Linked DNA regions of Homo sapiens: all the other regions are reported to be linked to region 1. The links are microRNA targets in miRTarBase. Many come from high-throughput screens and were not tested one by one. Region 1 holds a microRNA gene; each other region holds the end of a gene's coding sequence. Distances are from middle to middle.
Evidence for each region. Region 1 holds the annotated microRNA hsa-miR-4520-2-3p (UUUGGACAGAAAACACGCAGGU, at 1,604-1,625, shown strand). A microRNA usually pairs through its seed, bases 2 to 8, with sites in the 3' UTR of a target mRNA and lowers its output. Matches are read on the target gene's strand: a 7mer-m8 pairs with bases 2 to 8, a 7mer-A1 pairs with bases 2 to 7 and ends in A, and an 8mer does both.

Region 2: the mRNA of CALN1 is a reported target of hsa-miR-4520-2-3p. Seed matches in the 3' UTR shown: 7mer-A1 at 1,640-1,646.
Region 3: miRTarBase lists MYOCD as a target of hsa-miR-4520-2-3p. Seed matches in the 3' UTR shown: 8mer at 399-406 and 7mer-m8 at 3,967-3,973.
Region 4: miRTarBase lists GINS4 as a target of hsa-miR-4520-2-3p. Seed matches in the 3' UTR shown: 7mer-m8 at 540-546.
Region 5: the mRNA of FAM83G is a reported target of hsa-miR-4520-2-3p. Seed matches in the 3' UTR shown: 7mer-A1 at 2,584-2,590 and 7mer-A1 at 969-975.

Annotation. Positions count from the first base shown.
Region 1 is chr17:6,653,878-6,658,021 of GRCh38, forward strand. It overlaps MIR4520-2 (microRNA 4520-2), which reads left to right and starts at 1,572; the gene lies at 1,572-1,625. It overlaps MIR4520-1 (microRNA 4520-1), which reads right to left and starts at 1,632; the gene lies at 1,563-1,632. It also overlaps the pseudogene ALOX15P1. RefSeq lists enhancers at 1,230-1,802, 3,080-3,716, 3,491-3,540.
Region 2 is chr7:71,784,107-71,788,250 of GRCh38, forward strand. CALN1 (calneuron 1) reads right to left here. Exons shown (of 7, transcript NM_031468.4): 7 at 1-3,796. The coding sequence ends at 3,669. Among named protein-coding and RNA genes, the nearest start is that of MIR3914-1, 480 kb to the left of the region's middle.
Region 3 is chr17:12,763,322-12,767,465 of GRCh38, forward strand. MYOCD (myocardin) reads left to right here. Exons shown (of 14, transcript NM_001146312.3): 14 at 1-4,144. The coding sequence ends at 323. ARHGAP44-AS1 (ARHGAP44 and MYOCD antisense RNA 1) reads right to left here. Exons shown (of 2, transcript NR_104607.1): 2 at 1-397. Among named protein-coding and RNA genes, the nearest start is that of ARHGAP44, 24 kb to the right of the region's middle.
Region 4 is chr8:41,541,304-41,545,447 of GRCh38, reverse strand. GINS4 (GINS complex subunit 4) reads right to left here. Exons shown (of 8, transcript NM_032336.3): 7 at 3,549-3,639; 8 at 418-3,457. The coding sequence ends at 3,361. The region is part of intron 1 of GPAT4-AS1 (GPAT4 and GINS4 antisense RNA 1); the gene reads left to right. Among named protein-coding and RNA genes, the nearest start is that of GINS4, 14 kb to the right of the region's middle. RefSeq lists enhancers at 8-97, 158-307, 2,272-2,501.
Region 5 is chr17:18,967,843-18,971,842 of GRCh38, forward strand. FAM83G (family with sequence similarity 83 member G) reads right to left here. Exons shown (of 6, transcript NM_001039999.3): 6 at 947-3,906. The coding sequence ends at 3,517. It overlaps SLC5A10 (solute carrier family 5 member 10), which reads left to right. Exons shown (of 15, transcript NM_001042450.4): 6 at 1,210-1,315; 7 at 1,500-1,580; 8 at 3,171-3,376. Among named protein-coding and RNA genes, the nearest start is that of SLC5A10, 18 kb to the left of the region's middle. RefSeq lists enhancers at 92-1,035, 2,922-3,863.

The DNA of each region.
Region 1 (4,144 bases):
TGTAGAATGTGGGACAGTGGTTCTCAACTAAGTGTGATTTTGTCCCCCAGAGGATATATGGCAACCTCTAGAGACATTTTAGTTTGGTTGAAAAGTTGTTGGGAGGGGGTGGGTGGCACATTAGGTGCTACTGGCACCTAGCGGGTAGAGTCCGGGGATGCCACCTGACATCCTACAGTGCACAGGTCAACACCCTCCCCTCTGCCAACGATGAAGAATCACTGGTCCCAAAATGTCAATAGTGCCAAGGCTGAGAAACACTGACAGTTCTAGCAGCTTGGAAAGCTAGAGCATGGTCTACTGGGACAGCGCACCACTTTAAGGAACAGTCATGGAAGAGGGTTACCTTTAAAAGTAAAGAGAAATCATCAAAGAAAACAGCAACACAAATGAGACACAATACCTACCACTCATGGGCCACTATGTAGGAATTTTAACAGTGATCTCTAAGGTAGGCTGTAATAACTGTGGCTTCCCCTATTTTAATAATGCATTGTAACAATTGTTAACAGTGATTAAGTTTCGCAAAAGCACGTGCTGAATCAGTTAAGAAAAACTTAGGATGCAAGCTGAACAAGAGACTCCAGAGAGCCTAAAAGATGATGGAACATATGCATATATAAGAATCACAAGTAACACAATGATACACAGGTCTGGCGACGATATTTCAAACGTATGCAAGCTCATGTGAGAAGCAGAAAACCAATCAAGGACACGCTTTAAGACACAAGGAGGACACGCTTTAAGACACAAGTCCTCTCCCTTAGTCTCGCCCACGCTGGGAAGCTGGTGGGGTCGTGTTTGAATAGCAAAGGTGTGCGAACAAACCAAATTAGGAAAACTGCAGAGTACCTTAGCCTTTCTAGACGCTGCAAGAGCCTTCTCTCCTCCCTGTCCAAATACTAATCCTGCCGGGAGTGAGGCCTGGAAGGAGGCCCAGGGGAAGCGGGAGAAGAGGTCTGGGCCAAGGAGAGTTCTATCTGCGAAGACTCCAGGCTCAGAGCGCTACTCACCTGTCTCCAGGGCGACGGCAGCGGCCATAACAGGCAAAGACAGCGAATCGCCACCTGCCTAACAGAGGAAAAGCCCGGAGGGGCGGGAGGAGTTCCGGAAACCACGGCTCCCTCTTGCGGTCCCGGGGCACCGAGGAATATGGGGACGGTGGCTCCGCTCATCCCCGGCCAGGCCCGCTTAGCCCGCGCTGGCTCCGGAATGGCGAGGGGGCGGTGCCGGGCTGTGGGAGCGCCTGAGGGGCAGGAGTCCAGGGAGGCAGACTTTTACCCTCAAAAGGAATGAGTCCCAGAGCCTGGCACAAGGAAGACAAGTGTGCAAAGTTGGTGGAATGAATTCGGTGGCCTAAATGTACCTTCCTCAAATGCCACGGCTGACTGGGTCTCCTCGCCCACTTCACCCTCTCTTGCAATCCAACTTGTGAGGCGTGTGTGTGTGTGTGCATGTCCGCGCTTGCCTTTAGATGGAGGTTGGCTTCCCAGCCATCCAGGCTTGCATACACGTGCATAACTCCTACCCCTACCTCGCCTGCCTGCTGTACCAGGGGTTGATTCCTTCTTCCTGCGTGTTTTCTGTCCAAATCCTTTTCTGATTTGGACAGAAAACACGCAGGTGGCACACAGTAAGCGCTTAATAAATTTTCCGGCTACCTGATCTTCTTGGAATTGAGGGCATGCTCCTGTGCGCCCCTCATTGCACAGAGCTCCCTTGTCTGGAAACTCAGCAGTCACCGGAGCCGCCGTCGGTCCTCTCGCTTTCTCTATTTTAAAAAACGTTTCAACCGCTAGCGCTGTTGGATCTCTACCTTTCAGGCTTTATCACCTGGGGTGGAGTGGGTGGTGAGAGGGAAGGGATGGGGAGTCAAGACAGGAGAACGCTCTCGATTTCCCGACCCACCTCCCGTCATATCTCATGTCATATCTACCGGGTGTTCTACCCGGTCCTGTTACTTTTTTTCTTCCGCGAAAGCCCAAATTCCCATCACTGCTCTAGCTCTCTCCCAGATCGCCAAATCCGGATGTCTGTCTCAGGGAACGTCAAAGCAACATGCCCGGATGAGGTCCTCCCCTCTCCCCACCTCCCAGCCCTCTCCTCCTGCCTCCCCCGGTGTCACCCGCGCCTCCTTCCTCTCTTCACCTCCCTCTAAACAAGAATCCGGCGCAGTCAGTTCTAGACCCTGAGCATCTCCCGCGTCCCTGCCCAATATCCGTCCCGCCCCCGATCGCCCGCGTCCTCTTGAACCTGCGGAGCCCTGCTCCCCGCACTCCACGCCCTTGCTCCGAGCTTCCGAGAAAGCGGGGCAAAGGGAGCCAGAAAGAGAGAAAATGCGCACGGAGCAGGTGGCCCCGCGACTCCATGGTGAGGGGACGGGGCACGGAAGGTGGAAAGGCGCGCTCCCTCCTCCCTTTTTTCCTCCCTATGGTGGGCAGTTGGTGACACACAGTAAACGCTCAATAAATGTTTCCGCTACTCGATCTCCTTGGAATTAAGGGGATGCTCCTGAGCGCCCCTCATTCCACACAGCTCTGGTGCCTGGAAACTGCGGTCGCCGGAGCGGTCGTCGGTCCTCCCGGTTTCTCTATTTTAAAAGCCATTTCAAACCTCCAGCGGCCTCGCCACCTCTGCTGCAGACCTTCCAAGCCCTTCTGAAGCCGGAATGATTTCTCCCTAATTCACTCCCCCTGCTTAACACATTCGAACGGCTCCCGCTTGTTCTCGGGACCAAATCCAAAGCCCCTGGCGCCACCTTCGAGAGCCTCCGGACCTGCTGACCCCCCACACCTGGGCTCTGAGCTCCAGATCCAAGATGCTGCTCGCCCTCCCTTCCCCGCCGCTCTCTTTCTGCGCGCCTTTCCCCTGCCTTCCCTTTCTGTCACTCTCCCTGGCTGAGCCCTCTCCGCCTCCAGGTCTCCGGGAAGGTTGTCCCCAGGCCGGTGGGGCCCCTGCAGGTCCTCAGCCTCGGGCGGGGTGGGGTGGAGGGGTCGCACAGCGGGAATTGCCACCAGCGCGTCCGGGCTCCACAGCGCGCTCGTCCAGGGCGCGGCAGCGCTCAGCCCAGCGCTTGGCACAGTCAGTGACCACAGGGAGGAGAAAGTGAAGGCAGGAGCGCACCTTCCCACCTGCCGTCCCCGTCCCCTCAGAACCGAGTCCTGGGGCCACCTGCTCGGCGCGGTCCCTCTCTCTCTGGCTCAGTCCCCCCACCCCGATACGTCTCCTCCTCTCAGAGGCTCCGAGGAAGGGCGTGGGCGCTGGAGGGAGCAGGGCTCAGCCGGGTGCCCCTCCCGCCAGGCCCCACCGGGGCTGAGCCTCTTCTGTCGCCCGCAGGAGACAGAACTCAAGGTGGAAGTACCGGAGTACCTGGGGCCGCTGATGTTTGTGAAACTGCGCAAACGTCACTTCCTTCAGGTTCTGCAGCTGGATCTCCGTGTAGGGCCCCGGAGCCGGGGACGAGGTCAGGTTCCCTTGTTACCGCTGGGTGGAGGTCGACGGCGTCCTGAGCCTGCCTGAAGGCACCAGTAAGCGCGGGGCTGGGGGTGTCAGGAGGCCTCTGGGGTGCGAGAGAAGCTGGGGGGATGCGCGTGTGGAGAAGAGGGCGCAGGATGGGGGTGCTGGAACCTGGAGCGCAGGGCTCTTTGGGAGTGTCGAAGGGGCTGTGGCTGCAGCTGGCACAAAGTGGCTGGAGCCTGGGGGAGGGGCGTGATGCTGAAGAGGCAGGGGTCACACAGAAGGACGGAGTGATGAGGCTCTCCTGGCAGGGGCGAGAAGAGGCGCTCACCAAAAGTCACTGGCCAAGCCCTCCTCTGGCCTTCTAGGCCGTACTGTGGGCGACGACCCTCGAGGCCTGTTCCAGAAACACCAGGAAGAGGAGCTGGAAGAGAGAAGGAAGTTGTACCGGTGAGCCCTCCTCCCCTGACCCCACGTGAGCTGCTGATGCTTCCAGCACCCACGCCTGATTTCCTTCCTGCCCTACAGGTGGGGAAACTTGAAGGATGGGTTAATTCTGAATGTGGCTGGGGCAAAACTATGTGACCTCCCTGTGGATGAGCAATTTCTGGAAGACAAGAGTGTTGACTTTAAGGTTTCGCTGGCCAAAGGGTGAGAGCAAGGGGAGGCTGGGTGAGAGGGAGGTGTC
Region 2 (4,144 bases), not on the chromosome of region 1:
ATTTCTGTCAATTTACCTAGATTAAGGGGTCCTGGCTCTGGACCCTGGGAGAAGGGGCTGGGAGTAGGGATGGGGAGATACCAGGGCTTACAGGTAGCTCCTGCTCTCCTGAGTAAATAGAAGGACAAGTTCAAATGCCAGACAAAAAGGCAGAGATACCACCCAGATTCTTTAAGGGTAATTGCCTCTCCCAGCAGGATACAGATGCAGAGAGTCAGGTTGCACTCAGGCTGAATTGGAGTGTTCTTTAAGAAAATGTTCCCTATTTTTGTGTGCCTTGGCAAACTCAGGGTGGAATGCAAGGGTTGCCATGGTAATATCCCTCTTTTTTTTTTGTCAGATCAGTCACGTGGGACCCAAGCACATTCTGGAAGCCATTGCTAATAGTCCCGATGCTAGATTCTGTCTGGGGGCTTTGTGGGTATCTGGAAAGGTGGGGCGCAGCTTCTTTGGGGATCAAGGGGGTCAGGGTCCATTTCCCCTTCTCTCCCAAGGAAAATGCCTTCTTGCTCATCACTTGTGCTTTCCAGGGGGGCGGCGGGGGGTACCTGCTCTTGCAGCAAGAATGAGCCAACCTGTGTTTGTCAATCACTCAGCCTCCACACAGTTGGGCAGCCAAGGTCACTGGTTCCTAAGTCCGGAGGACAGAATGAGGGGTGAGCTATTCCCTCTCAATTCCTGCGGAAGTCACTTCCAGCTGGGGCTACATGGCATCCCTTGGGCATGGGAGACCAGGACCTTCTGGAATCTTCAGCCGTGAGCTTCATAGCCACCATGATGGGGACACTGACTGGCATGGGGCCCTAGCATAAAATTTGTGTGAACAGGGCTGGGAGTTGGCTGCCTGACAAGGAAGGCTTCCCTATACCCAAGACAAACTGTCCAAGCAAAGCAGCCAGGGTGCAAGTCACCGGGACAAACTCTGAGCTCCTGAAGTCTAAGGAATGCCGCTAGCTCAGGGCCGTCTCCACGCACTGTGTCCTTCAGTCCCTGGGTGCCACATGGGGGGTTACCACAGTGGGAAGATAACTCCTAGGCTGTCAGAAAGAATTCTGTGTCTTCCTTCTTGCCATCTCTCTCTAGCAGTCTGCAGAGGAATGCATTCTCCTAGATTTTCCCCTGGGGAGGGTGGGCTTGCTTCCAGGTCACTGGGAGCAAGAAGAAGGTCACCGTTAGGAAAGGAATCCTGCAGCCTTTCCAGAAAACAGGATGGCGGCGCCTCTCCAGAACTCCTTTTCCTCCCTACTCCTGCACAGTGGCTAATCTCTCTGCCAATGAAATCTAACCCTCACCTCTTGAAGGGTCTCTGTTCTCCAGCAGGAGGCAGAAGAACTCGCAGAAAAGCCACCTTCAAAGAAGTACTCATTTTCTGCCCTGAAGACCAGCCTCAGCTGCAGCATTTCAGTCCCCTCTCATGGAGGAGGGGGCTTTGAAGAATCATCCCTGGGGTTTCTACCCAGTCTACTTAGGGTCCTGCACCCCTATGGATGTGGTTGGGTGGTTCGGGGGTCAGGGAAAAACAGGAAAGTATATCCCTTCAAGATCTGCTATGCCCTCCCATCTAAGTCCAGATGGGAGAGGGCAAACTGCCCAGGGCAGAGATTAAGGATGAAGTTGTTCGATGTATTAATATTCTGCATTTGGACCGGTTCTAGTTGAGAATTCCAATCCTAAGGGGACAGTGGTGAGTCAGCCAACAGGAGCAGCAGAAGGGGCAGGCATGCAGTGTGCAGGCAGCAGGGCAGGTAAGGGGGAAAGGCAGGTTGCTGCCTCCTTGGTCTGGCCTTGCTGGGCTGAACTCCAGGAAGTTTTGCAGAGGGACCTGTGATCCCCCAGGCTCTTGGGAGCTTACATCTGCTCCCTCCTCCATATTATGGCTGAAGCCTTAGTTTTACTTGTGCTCATCAGGAATATTCATAGTCTCCCACAGAGGGAAAGTTTCTACAGCTGCCCTCAGGCTGTTGCCAGTAGCACTTGCAGAGGTGAATGAGAAAACTTTCATTGGAGACCTTGGGTGCTCCAAGTCTGAAAAGGCAGTAGGGAGAAAGCTGAGCAGGAAGACAGGGAGGGAGATCAGGAACACACAACGCACCAAAAAATCCTACCCACTGCATAGAGACAAGAAAGCTTCTGGTGGCTCGCTACTGGAAGGGGGGAAGCATGTAGTTTTAGGATGTAATCAAAAGAAGTAGGAGCAAGGTAATTCCATTACAAAATAAAGACCTGAGCTTGGAAAAGTACAAAGGGAACTATTACATCTAGAGATTACTGGCTAATCTGACTACACAAGCTTGAATTCATAGTAGTGGCTGACATCTAGGAAAAGTCAGGAAATTACAGACTTGGAATGGTGTTGAAAACAGATCCTTGGATTCAGTTCTCTTCCCCAACGAAAAGTATTCTGCAGGCAGGAGTAAATTACCTGTTCTGTTGGCTAAACTCATAAACATCTTTTCCCCCAACCTCCTGAAAATGAGTCAGTTGCAGAATCTGAAGGCCAGAAGATCTTATGTGAAAATACAGTCGTTTGATCTCTCCATCTTTCCATTTTGGATTGCATTTCTCTTTTTAGCTGGGGAAGACTAACAAAGCAAACTCCAAGGTAAGGGAAAGGTAAGATGCACAAGGACCTTAACTTACAAAGGTCATCCGGCATAGAGACGTGGTGGGTCTCCATGACTCCAGATGGCTGGGTGTGGGTATCAAAACCTCACCGCCAGTCCCAGTCCCCTCCCCCCTCAACCTGCCTCACCCCTGCCCCAAAGAAGCAGGGATGAGTGTGGGAGGGAGGACAAGCTTATATTAGGTGTAAGCGATTAGGGAAGAATGACATCACACACGAAGAAGCCAAATATATATATCTGTCTATGTTATAGAGATGCCCACGATTATGCTTCTTTTTTTCTCTAATGGCAGCACAGGCGGCAAAGCTGGGAGAAAGGCTCTCTGCAGGTTCCAAAATGCTGGTGCGGGATGGGCTCTAGGAACAGAAAGCCAAGTGCCGACGGAAACTGAGAGCACCCCAGCTCTACCAATGGCAGTCCTCTAGAAAAGGCAGTAAGAACGGAAGCGGTGAGGGGTGCAGCTGAAGACCGCCAGGGCTGCACCCCACTTAATGGCTTTCCCCTCATGCCTTGGGGGGGTCTCCACTGGGTGGAGGAAGGAAGCCAGGGTGGGATGGAAAGCCCCCTCTTCTGTGGCAACCCTGAAGTCAGCCTCTTGGAACTGAGGGTTGACCTCAGCAGAGAGTCTCCTGTTGACCCTTGGGTTGAAAGAATGGGGAGTGGAGGTGACTGTGTGTTCATGCCTCTCTCTTGCTCTCTCACCATTATACCTGGATGGCTGCTGGAATTCCGAGATGAAGATGAAGTTTTTCTCTAGAGTTATGACTGATGGTTGAAGCAATAATTTGGAAATCCTGGCGATTTATTGCATTAGAAAACAAAACCATTAAAGCACTGAAGACAGCCCTTTAGTGTCCCTGCCAAGGAGATGAAGCTGAAGTGCAACCCCAGTTGCACTCAACCTTGGGTTCTTTACTGAACGGTTCCATCGTCCGCATCCATCCATAGTCCATAGGTCCGTGTCTGCTGTGTGGAGGAAGAGTCTGCCCGCACGGCATGCACATGCGCGGTGAGCTGCAACACAGTGTGGCTGGCGGGAGGCTGCTACTCCATGCCGCTCCGGAGTATCTGGTTGGCTGCAATCAGCATGACACTGATGATGAAGGCCATAGCAAAGGCGCATATGAGGCTCTTCCGGACGCAGGTCTGTCTGTTCTGCTTCTGGGAATGCACTGGTGGTGGGAGAAGCAGGTGTGGGAAGAAGGAAGAGGGGTTGGGAGAAGAGAGAAGAGAGAAATAACACAGTGAGATAGGTTGCAACTCTTCCTCAACAGGCCAGCAGTGAGTCCTATAGGATGAGACTGGTCAAATCAAGTTGACAGGCATTTATGGGACCACTGCCATGGAGACTGCATAATACAAAATGCCTTCTGGTGAAAGGTATGAAATGAGAAAACTTCTATAACAAGAATCATGATGGATGTGATGATCAGAGTAAGGCCTAAATTTTCTGATAGAATAGAGCCAGAGTGACTTTCAGAGCCCGGAAATATGGGACATTCCAGGGTGAGTTTCATAAA
Region 3 (4,144 bases), 6.1 Mb from region 1:
AGCCTCACTTTGATGGGATAATGGATGGATTCTCTGGGAAGGCTGCAGAAGACCTCTTCAATGCACATGAGATCTTGCCAGGCCCCCTCTCTCCAATGCAGACACAGTTTTCACCCTCTTCTGTGGACAGCAATGGGCTGCAGTTAAGCTTCACTGAATCTCCCTGGGAAACCATGGAGTGGCTGGACCTCACTCCGCCAAATTCCACACCAGGCTTTAGCGCCCTCACCACCAGCAGCCCCAGCATCTTCAACATCGATTTCCTGGATGTCACTGATCTCAATTTGAATTCTTCCATGGACCTTCACTTGCAGCAGTGGTAGAATGCCCAATGCACCAGTGCTATGGAAGACCAATGGAGTTCCATGGGGGAAAGCACACAGCCATACATACTTTACTGTCCAAAAACAGAAGAAGAAGAAGAGAATTAAAAAGAAGCAATGATTTCTGTGCCAATGAACAAGAACAAAAGTCATTTTTAGAAATACATATACTGTAATATTTACCAACAGTCAGTAACTGTTAATGATTTCAACAATGCATTAAAAGAATGTGCTTTCTCAGATTAAGGATGCCAAAAAAGATATTTCACTGCCTTTTCAAAGACCAGTATATTTTCTAGCCCATAATTTTTCTCAGGCATTGTTGGGGCATAAGCTCACACTGTAAGCTTTTCTCATGAATTCACTAGACATAACGTGGAAGGAAAACGTAGTCTTTTGGGAGTACAGGGAAGCCAGCCCCTCAAAGCTTATGGAAGACATACCTGCAATGGAAGCTGTTGCCCAATGTCTCCATTACTATCTTTCAAAAGAGAAGCCAGACCCAGCTTCAGATCAAAAGTTCTTGAGACAGAGGAACAAAACCAATCGATTTCCAGGGAAGCTAATCAACTCTCTTTTCCCTCTACCACAAAACTGCCCTGCTGGAGTGGTTCTGAACCTGTACCCAGGACTCGATGTGGTCACTAATAACAATTAACCTGAACTGAGTCCACAGAACTCCACTCGGAACTTTCTTCTTTTTTAACTAGTGGCCCAATCATTCCCACCATCTCTGTGCTGATAAGTACGTGTCCTAGATGAGAACCCTGAAGAATGCAGACCTTCTTCCCCCGAAGGAGATGCCACAAGCTCTCCAACACAGCCCCCTTTAGTTCCAAAGACTAGAGATGACCACATTGGTAGAAGTATATCTCGAGGCACAGGAAGGGAGCCCCACCAGGGATAATTCAGACAGGACTAGAGAATAACATCATTTCACATACCCTGGGATAAACACCCTGGGTTCCTATAGAAGGACTATTACTTATGGGAGTCCAACTTCTCCTTTTGTTTTGTTATTATCAGTTTATCTTTCTCCCACTCCACTTTTCCTTCAAGGTACCAATCCTTTCCTGTTCCTCGTTTGGCCATCTTTCTTTTTCTGCCTCCACATTGGGAGGGGAGGACTTCTCAGTTCTAACAAGCTGCCATACTCCTAAGAAAGCCATTTTTGAAAAATTTAACAATCCAGGTTCTTCTGGAGAACTCATTCTCCACACGCACAGTTTGCTGCAAAAGGAAGTTGCAAGAATTTCTTGAGGAAGAAACTGGTGACTTGGTCCATCAGTCACGAAGTTCTTTCTATTCTCGTTTAGTTTTCAAGAAATTATTGGTTTGTGTTGCTCTGGGGAAATTGGAAATCATTACATTGTAAAGACAAATATGGATGATATTTACAAGAGAGAATTTCAGATCTGGGTTTTTGAAAGAAAACAGAATTGCGCATTGAAAACGATGGAAGGAAAAAGACAATGGTCTAATGTGCATTCCTCATTACCTCTCGTGGCTTTGGCTGGGAGTTGGAAAAAGCTAAAATTTCAGAACAGTCTCTGTAAGGCTCTCTGTGGCTCCAGTTCACCATTTTATATTGTTGCATGCTGTAGAAAGGAGCTATTGCTGTTGTTTTGTTTTTTTATTTAAATCACTAAGGCACTGTTTTTATCTTTTGTAAAAAAAAAAAAAAAGTTGTTCACTGTGCACTTATAGAAAAAATAATCAAAAATGTTGGGATTTTAGAAGCTCTCTTTTTGATAAACCAAAGATTTAGAAGTCATTCCATTGTTAACTTGTAAAAATGTGTGAACACAGAGAGTTTTTGGTGATTGCTACTCTGAAAGCTGCCAGATCTTATTCTGGGGGTGGGATGTGGAGGAATACACATACACACACAAACATACATGTATGTATAATAGATATATACATATGTGTATATTATATCTGTGTGTGCATGTATCTCCAAAAGCGGCGTTACAGAGTTCTACACCAAAAGCCTTTAACCCTTAATCTGCTGTGAATGATACCTGGCCTTTCTCACTATGAATTTCTGATTAACCAACCAGACTACACGTTGCCTCTCTGTGTATGACTAACGGCTCCAACCCGATGACTCACAGCTACTTGCTTATCGTGAACAAGCTCATCTTGGCAATGAATATGGATGTGAAAAGACAGAACAGCTTCACCATTAGTAGCTGGAAATGGTATCACAGTCTCTTATAGAGGAATATGAAAGGAACAAGAAAATCATTTTACATTCCTTTTATCTGTATTGTGCTTTAAAAGATCCACATGGTAAATTTTTTATTTTGCTTTTATGTCAGTCATCAGAACCAAAAAAATCCAGAAGAAAAAATTGCCAGTGTTTCCTTTGAAGATGAAGCTACTGGGGAAGAAAACCTTATTAATACACTCCACACATTTGTTCATTCCTCAGCTGTTGGTGTTTTCTTGGGGTCTTGACAAAGCTTGCTGGTCAGTGCACTTTTCAGGTGTCACGTTTTGCTGTTTGTATGTTTTTTCTTCCCCTTACTTCCTTTGGAAAACAAACTCACACAGTGCCCCTACTCTGAGACCTGGGACTGAGTGTTAATTATTTTTTCCTTGGGTATTTCTATCTGAGAGACTAGACCTAGTTAGGAGGCCTCTGTACTTCTCCAGATTGTACCTTTTTATGGGGATCTTTGAGGCTATGACCCAGGACTGATAGATATGCCTTACGGAAGACAAAAGATAAAATGGTTCCTATATCCTAATGCAAACCAACACAGTTAAAAGAGCAGATCTCTGGATAACTGCTCTCAACCTGCTTCTACAGTCTCCACAAACCGCATTCACCCTCTCTCTTCATAGCTCAGACATGAAATTTGAGGGAGAAAACTGGAGATAATTGGGAGAAAATTGATGAAGTTGGCTGCTTCCAGTAGATCAGATAATCCATGAATTTGTCTCCCATTGAGAATTTTATTTTAAATTCTTTTAAACTCTTCGTTGTGTCTTTTGTGATGACAAATCAGGCATGACTAAAAGATGTACAGAGACTTACGAAGATGGTCACATTCAAGTTCCCTAATGCTCTTAGAACCTGAAGATGACCATGTGTAGTTTTCTTAAGACCTCTGAACCCCCATGGTGATGAAGACTTGAAGACATTTGCAGCTATCTGCTGCAGTCTGGTAGATTCATACTTATCTAAAGAAGTCAAAAAATTTATTCGTGCAAGTGCTTGCAGGAAGCCAGTGCTTATTAGTAGTGACCCTGCTTCTATCAACGTTATTGAGACAACACATATTCTATTCTAAGGGAGAAAGAGGGAGGAAGAGAGGGAGGGAGGGAGGAAGAAGAGGGAGGGAGCGAGGAAGGAAGATAGGAGATGGGTAGGGGGGTAAAGAGAAAAGGAGGGAGAAGGGAAGGAAGGAAAGAAGAGAGGAAAGAAAGGAGGGAAGGAAAAAAGGGCCAAACTTTCTGATCTATGAACTTCTCAGTTCAGCTGTCACATTATGAGAAGTAAATCAGAATTTTTTTAAGGAGAAGTCATTCTTAGCACTACAATAATTGTACCAGTAATTGAGGAAACCAAGACAATCTTCACCTGAATAATAGAGGGTCTGAGAACTGTCAGCCTTTTGCCATTCAAAAACATTTATGTCCAACCTGAAAAAAAAGCATCAATAAAACCTATCCCAAGCATTCAAAATAGTCCTTTCCAAATGTTATTTATTTTAAAGTCAATCAGCTCTTTTAGAAACAGATTCTGGTCTGGCTGAAAACTCCCACAACAAATTTACTCATCCAGTGGCTAATATTTAATGCCCACCATGGGC
Region 4 (4,144 bases), not on the chromosome of region 1:
AGATTGTACCACTGTACTCCAGCCAGGGCGACATGTCAAAAAAACAAAACAAAACCAAAGCACTCTGCAAGCTTCCTGGCTAACTCTTGTACATTGCAGCAGGGGAAGTTTGATGCCTCTGAGGGCGATGCCAAAGCCAGGCGGGCTGCTGGGGTGTGAGCATGGAGTAAATGCAGCAAGGTCACAGATGACGGATGATGACTGCGGTGGGAAAACCCACATAGCGGCCTGCAAGCACGTCTCAGGAAGAGCTGTCTTGCTAGGGGCAAACTTACGGTAAAGGATGACGCCATCATTTGATAAAATGTTCTGTCATGCTTTTAGTGGCGAGTTTTTAACAATAAAGCAAAACACTCACCATGAACCAAATGTTAAAATCAATGTCAACCAAGTCACATCATTTCCTGTTCCACTTGGTTTTGAAATTCAACTTCTCCTTTATTTAAAAATGACATCAAAACCAGTCTTCTCTTGAAGAGGTAATTTAGGAAATGGAGCAATTTACTGTGGTTTTAGAGGATGTAAAGTGCTCCGTGCAGTTGGACATGTACAGGGCAGCAGCTGGAGGCATGAGGACGTAGAGCCGTCATTCAATGTGGTCCCCGGGCCAGCAGCAACTGCACAACATGGGAGCTCCTTAGAAAGGCAGGATCCTGGACCTCACCCTGTTTCAGAACCTACATCTTTTTTTTTTTTAATTTGCAAAAATTTATTCATATACAAATGTGCAATATCAATAAAATGACCAAACAGGTTTGTTCTTGAAACATTTTCAATTGAATGGGAATTAAATGCTTTTGAAAAGTGACAAAATGATCATACAGTGAAGTTGTCTCTTTCTTTATATAACAAGCATAAATCAAGTACTAACTCTTGATTTTACTCTGAATTAACCATGACATACTAAATGAACTTGGGCTTCAGGCAGAACCTACATCTTAAGGCGAGCTCCAGGCGATGGGTATGCACATTAAGGCTTAGGAAGCACACTGTTCTAGGTTAACAGCTCAGGTCTCTGGGCTTAGCACTACAGGGAGAACGTGACTAGGAAGTGCAGACTTGGGTTCTGATCTCAGGCTTACCACTAAATATCTGCTGTTTCCCACAGCCCTGCCCGCTTCTCAGGACTGTGGGGGACCAAATGGGATCCTTATTAACAAGGTCCTGTAAGATCTGGGTCCAGCCTGCCTCAGACCTTATCATGTAATACTTTCTATTTTGAGTTGGGCTTTCTAACCAGGCTGACCTCAAGTAGAGTTTGTTTCTGCCTCAGGGCCTTTGCACAGGCTGTTTTCTCTGCCTGGAACACCCTCCCTTTTGACCTCTGCACTGCAGCTGCCTCCTGTTAATCAGATCTCAGCCTAAATGTTGTCTCTCCAGTGAGACCCTCCAGGGACTGCACGAGTATCAAATACCTTTGTCAAGAAATAAAACCTCCCCAGGCCGTGCGCAGTGGCTCACGCCTATAATTCCAGCACTTTGGGAGGCCGAGGTGGGTGGATCACCTGGGGTCAGGAGCTCGAGACCAGCTTGGCCAACATCATGAAACCCCATCTCTACTAAAAATACAAAAAATTAGTTGGGTGTGGTGGTGTGCACCTATAATACCAGCTACTCGGGAGGCTGGGGCAGGAGAATCTCTTGAACCCAGGAGGTGGAGGCTGCAGTGAGCCGTGTTCACACCACTGCCACTCCAGCCTGGGTAACAAGAGGGAAACTCCGTCTCAAAAAAGAAAAAAAAAAAAGACCTCCCTTGCTTTCCCCTACTGATTTCTCTTGGAAATGACAGCAATGTTACCCTGATTACTCTCGCAGCCCATACCCTGCAAATGGAAATCTGCCAACTTCAACCAGGAAGAAAAGACTGGAATGCAGGTTGCTTTTTATAGCATTTCAAGGAAAGATCATTCATTCACTGCCTATACATCCTTCCTTCCGGCATCACTGTGAGACTCTGCATGCACATTAATTTCATCCATTCCTCTTGAAAAAGTGAAGGACTTAAACCAGAAAAGCGGCCACAGGTCACAATACAAGATGGTTAACGTCACTCCGTTAACAGTGCCTTGGCCAAGGACAGCCAGATGGCCCGGAGGCTGACTTGGCAAAGCTGCTGGAGAGTTGGGGAGGGCTGCGGGTTAACAGCAGGGAGCACATACTTCATTAAACTACAAGCCGGGAGCCGTCCAGAGGTGCCTTCTGCTGCAGAATGGAAATTTAATAATGGTTTATTGGTTTAGTTGTGATTTTCAATTAAGCACGACAGAAATTGGTTTTAAGTCCAATATTAGAGGTTCTAAAATGTTAGTTTACACAGTCTAATGATGTATGACGGGAGAAGGCCACAGCTGTTTTCTTTAATCTATTTACAATCTTCGCAGCAGAAAGGCTAAATGAACTCTCCTACCATTATCAGGTCAGGGCTAAATGCAGCCCCGATCACAGGCAGTGATGCCTTCTTATGAACTACTTCTGCCTGACTTTCCTTAGCTCAGAAAATACTACAAAGGGAAAAGGCGTGCTGAGAGCCTCTGCTGCTCCGCCAAGTGTGCAGAACAAACAGTACAATGGCCCCATCTACTGACACGGGCTAAAACAGCAGACAGGACATGCAGCAACACAAGCAATCCTGCCTCGAGCTCCGCTTCACGCCCGTGACCCACAGCACTGCTGAGGAATGTCTGATGCCTAGTAAACTACTTTATTATTGTCCTCAGGCACAACGTGATACGAGGGGTTTCTAGTATTTTCTCTACGGTTCCAGGTCTTCATTCTTGTTTACGCCTAGTGTGTTTTTTTTGGAAATGGAGTCTCGCTCTGTCGCCCAGGCTAGAGTGCAATGGCACGATCTTGGCTCACTGCAAGCTCCACCTCCCGGGTTCACACCATTCTCCTGCCTCAGCCTCCTGAGTAGATGGGCCCGCCACCATGCCTGGCTAATTTTTTGTATTTTTAGTAGAGATGGGTTTAGTAGAGATGGGGTTTAGTAGCCAGGATGGTCTTGATCTCCTGACCTCATGAGTTTATGCCTAGTTTGTTTTTTTTTTGTTTTTTGTTTTTTTTTTTGAGACAAAGTCTCACTGTCACCCAGGCTGGAGTGCAATGGCACGACCTCGGCTCACTGCAACCTCCTGCTCCCAGGTTCAAGCGATTCTCCTGCCCCGGCCTCCTGAGTAGCTGGGATTACAGGTGCACACCACCAACACCCGGCTAATTATTTTGTATTTTTAGTAAAGATGGGGTTTCACCATGTTGGTCGGTTGGTCTCGAACTCCTGACCTCATGATCCGCCCGCCTCGGCCTCCCAAAGTGCTGGGATTACAGGCTTGAGTCACCATGCCTGGCTGTTTATGCCTAGTTTTAAATTAGCTGGACAGCTCCAGATGCAACCAGAGGTGCAATGGTTTTGTATCGGATCAAGTGCTGTGAGCCCTTCTCCAGGTCAATCACGTAGTCCCTGAAAAAGAGGGAAACACATTTGCCTGCAGAGCTCGGCTGGCCCTCCATCGGGAGGAATGTGCCCACTGTGAAAGATGCACGCCACTCACCTCTGCTCATCTGTGTCTGGTTCTACCAGTATGTTTTCTTGTCGTTCTCTCACTCTCAGAAACACGTAAGAATCTAGATCTGGTTTGGGAACTGCCAGGAAAACAACAATGTGATTAGGAAATCCTCGGCCAACAAAGTCAACAAAGTAAAAGTTGCTGGGAAGAATGGTATGGCACACTCAGGGTTTAGATAGGAGCCCAGCCCATTCCTACTCTTCAAAGATGCAGACAGAGTGGCTGACCAGGGAGGAAACCGGACACGCATTGGGCCTTTTGTTTTCCTCAGGCAGCCTCAGCAAAATGACCAATTCAGGGTTCCACAAGTCTGGTATGGGTCTGACTTGCTCCTGGTGTTATGGGCTACACTGTGTCCCTGCACAATTCATACGCTGAAGCCCTAACCCCCAGTATTTCAGCGTGGGATTGTATTCGGAAACAGGGCTTTTAAAGAGGCAATTAAGTGAAAGCGAGGCCAAGTAGTGTGGGCCCTAATCCAATCTGACTGGTGTCTTATAAGAAGAGAATAGGCCAGGCACAGTGGCTTATGCCTGTGATCTCAGCATTTTGAGAGGCTGAGGCTGGAGGATCAATTGAGG
Region 5 (4,000 bases), 12 Mb from region 1:
TCTCTACTTGGGCTGGAGGCAGATCCCGCCCCCACCCCCCACCACACCTTCCCCTGAACTACCTGCCCTTCCTATACACACACACACACAGCCAAAGATAAGGACCAGAGCCGGGGTTCTCCTGAAAGCCCCTGGCTAGTTTCCAAACTGGCTGGTCTCTCTAAGACAGGTTGAGAGAGGCGCCTGGAGGGAGAGGTACAGGAAGCACAGGCTTTGGAGCCAGATCCCATCCTGCCTGGGCCCTGTGTCAGACCCCAGGAGGCAGGGATCCCTGCCTGGGGGAGCTCAAAGGGGCCTGGGGCCTGCACTTCCTGGGCCTCGTGCAGATGTGTCCCCACACTAGGAAGCACAGGGCCCCAGCCTTCTCAGGAAGCTCCTGGCCCCTGAGGCTGTGTGTTGGGTCATCTCGCATCTCCTGAGTCAAAGCAGAATGGTAGGTTTAGGAACTCAGGGGTGGGGCAAGGTGAAGCCTGTTACTAGCCCATGTCCCAGAGAACAGGGTCCTGCCCTTCCTCTCACTGGGCCCCTACTGCCAGGTGGAGGGTGGGATTCTGGTCTTTGAGGCCCATGCCAGGCAGAGGTTGGCCTCCAGGCTAGCGCTCCTGCCTTTAGGAGGAGCAGCCACAGGTTCTGGGAGGGCAGGGGCTGTGTCCAGTCAGTGTGGAGACCAGCTTCAGCCTGAGACCCAGCCTCTGAGCCACTATTGGCTTCAGTTCCAAACCCACTGGGGGGTGGGGGCAGGAAGCAAGGCTGCCCCTCTGTTTCCTGGTCCGCCCAGCACACACTTTTCCTGAGGCCTACTGGTCCGCCCAGCACACACTTTTCCTGAGGCCTACTGGTCTTCACAGACTCCTCACAAACTCATCAAGGTGCCCCTGGGAACCGAGGGGACAGGGCTCTGCCTTTTATCCCCTCGGGAAGGGGCCAGATTCAATAACAACACTGCTTTTGGGAAAGGCATTGGCCACTTTGGACTTTATTAGCAACAGTAATGTCCCCTGACATCCGCACAAGCTTGTAGCTCCACGGCCAGGTCTTCCCCCAACCTCACAATGGCCCCGTGATGCAGGCAGGCAGGCGAGTGGGGGTCTCCCCTCCTTATCCACAGGCCACCGAGGCCCAGAGAGGGCCTTGCCCGAGGTCACCCAGGGAGTGGCTTGCTGGAGCCCTGGGAATAACAGTCCCACACAAGGCTCTCTCCCTCCGCAGCTGGACCTGTACGCGGGGGCTCTGTTTGTGCACATCTGCCTGGGCTGGAACTTCTACCTCTCCACCATCCTCACGCTCGGCATCACAGCCCTGTACACCATCGCAGGTATGGTGCCTGCAGCAGGGAGGTCCACCCAGGGGACGTGTAAAGGGGTCAGAAGGCCACCTCCCCCTACAGGCCCGAGGGAGCAGCCCAGGAAGTGGCCCCAGCAGGAGCCCCAGAAGTTCCTCCCCGTGTCCCTCCTCCCTGGGGCCAGGGCCCCCTCCAGCAACCTTGCTTCCACTGGCAGGGGGCCTGGCTGCTGTAATCTACACGGACGCCCTGCAGACGCTCATCATGGTGGTGGGGGCTGTCATCCTGACAATCAAAGGTGAGGACAGAGTCTGTGGCCATGGCGGGGCTGTCCCCACAGCGAGCCCTTTGGAGTCTGGCACTGCCCGGCACTGTGCAGGATTCATGCCGTTGGGGTTCTGGGTAGCATCGCTGGGAGTGGGTGGGTTCAGGAGGTTGAGCCACTAGGCAGTCAGCCCCCCTGCTGGCCCCTCAGGGACTGCCCTGGCTGGTAGAGGCTACCCACCCTGCTGCCCCGCTGTTACCAGCTCTGGCCCTGGCAAGGAGCTGACTCAGGAACTCAGGGCCAGCCACACCCGCATTGGCTCAGCGCTTGATGGTGAGGTGGGGCTGTAGGCGGGTGTGAAGGCACACAACCAGGAGGCCATAAAACTGCCTGGGCAGCTCCTCCAATTGTTTAAAAGCATGTACAAAATGCCAAGAGGTGATGCTACCTCCTGCAGGACAAAGGCCAGGGAGGAAAGAAGAGAGCTGGGAGAGATTGGCGATACTAGTCTGGAACAGATAGGAAACTCACAGGGCTGCCCGGAGAGAGCGTGAGCTCACCGTCCCTGGAAGTATGTAAGCAGAGCCAGGAGGATCCCTCAGAGAGTGAACAAATCTCTAAAGACTCTTCCAGACTCAGACACTGGGACCCTGTGGCTGAGCAGTTTCTAACCCTTGAATGGCACTTGTTCATTTGCTCTGAGCCTCACACAAACCCTCGGTCTGAATACAGAGCCTGACCTGAGCTCCATGGGAACAGTGATGCTGGGGAGACCAGCATCCAGGCAGCAGGCTGCCTCTTCCATGTCCCACTTGGAAAAGGCTAGGGAGTAGGGCCTGGGGTGGAAACGGGTTTTCCTACATCCAGGCTTCTCCCTCTCAGACCAGGGGCTCTAGTGTCCCTGGGACCCACCGCATGAGAGGGATCCCAGCAGCCAGGCCCAGTCTGGAAGGGAGGGGAGTGACACAGACACAGATGGGCCAGGGCTTGGCCATGCCGGGCCCTGACCCCGAGGTAGACAGGAACAGTGAGGTGTTTTGGACTGGAGAGGAAAAAGCCCCGGCTTGAGCCCGCCAGATGGTCTATATGGTCTTGGTGGAGGCCCCATCCCTCTCTGGACCTGTCTCCCTCTTCTCTGTGCCTCAGGGGGTGGGGCCACATCACCACCAGCCACTCTCAGCTCTGCTAAAATCACACCCTTCAGGTGATCAGGATGAACACTTTAGAAGCCTCAGGAAGGTCCTCAAATGTCAAGAAAAATTACTTTTGCTTCCTTGAATCGACAATCGGAAACCTGGCTGAGAACCACTTGCCCAAGGCCGATGAGTGTCCAGAGGCCAACAGTGACTCCTGCTGGGCCAGCGGGACACTGGGGTGCCCATGTGCAAAATGCTTACTTAATAGTATTATTTTAAATACGAATAAAATAGTCATTCAAATACACCTTAAAAAAAAAAACAACCCTCTACCCTCACACCTTTCCAAACACTGGGAAAGATGAGGTGGAAAAAACTCAAGTTTGATGCATCAGGAAGTTTCTTGTGAGATGAAGGCAGGGGGGAGCCCAGGGAGTCAGGGCCCCGCAACCACCAAACTGTCCCTGTTCCACCCTGACCCCTCCAGCTTTTGACCAGATCGGTGGTTACGGGCAGCTGGAGGCAGCCTACGCCCAGGCCATTCCCTCCAGGACCATTGCCAACACCACCTGCCACCTGCCACGTACAGACGCCATGCACATGTTTCGAGACCCCCACACAGGGGACCTGCCGTGGACCGGGATGACCTTTGGCCTGACCATCATGGCCACCTGGTACTGGTGCACCGACCAGGTGAGTGCCAACGTCTCCCGCCCATCCCACCTTCCTGCCGTCCCAGTGGGCTCTGGTAGGCCCAGGCGGCCTGTCTGCCCTCCGCGTCATGAGTCTGGGCTGGGGCCTCAGAAGGTGTGGCTCCAGGCTGGGACATGCTGCTAGGGGTCTTTGCGGTCCCGGGGGGCTTGAGCCCTCCGTTTAGAATCCGATGAGGCCCACTGGCTACCGCCCGTCCTGGCCTTTAGGTGCTTCGACTGAGACAGTTTGGAGTATGGGATTCCGAAGGGACTCGGATGCTCCTCGGTGGCCCTGCCATCGGTCATGGGGCGGGCATTTTGGGCCAGTCTTGGGCTGCCGGGATCCGGAAGCAGGCGGGGTACCTGACCTCCCTTGGCCTGCCAGTGGTGGGGGCCAGCCATGGCTGGGCCAGCGTTTCTGGTAGAGCTCTGGACGCTGTCAGCAGCAGAGCGGTACCTAGGGGGTCCTGGGAAGCCGTCTTTATCCCTAGTCCCTGAGGCAGGGACCCTGTGATGATGAAACTGCTGGCCCTGGGAGAGAGAGAGCAGAGAGTGAGGCTGAGCAAGAAGGGCCAACCCCGCCCCAGCACAGGACCCTGCTCAGGCACACAGGAGCCGGCAGGCC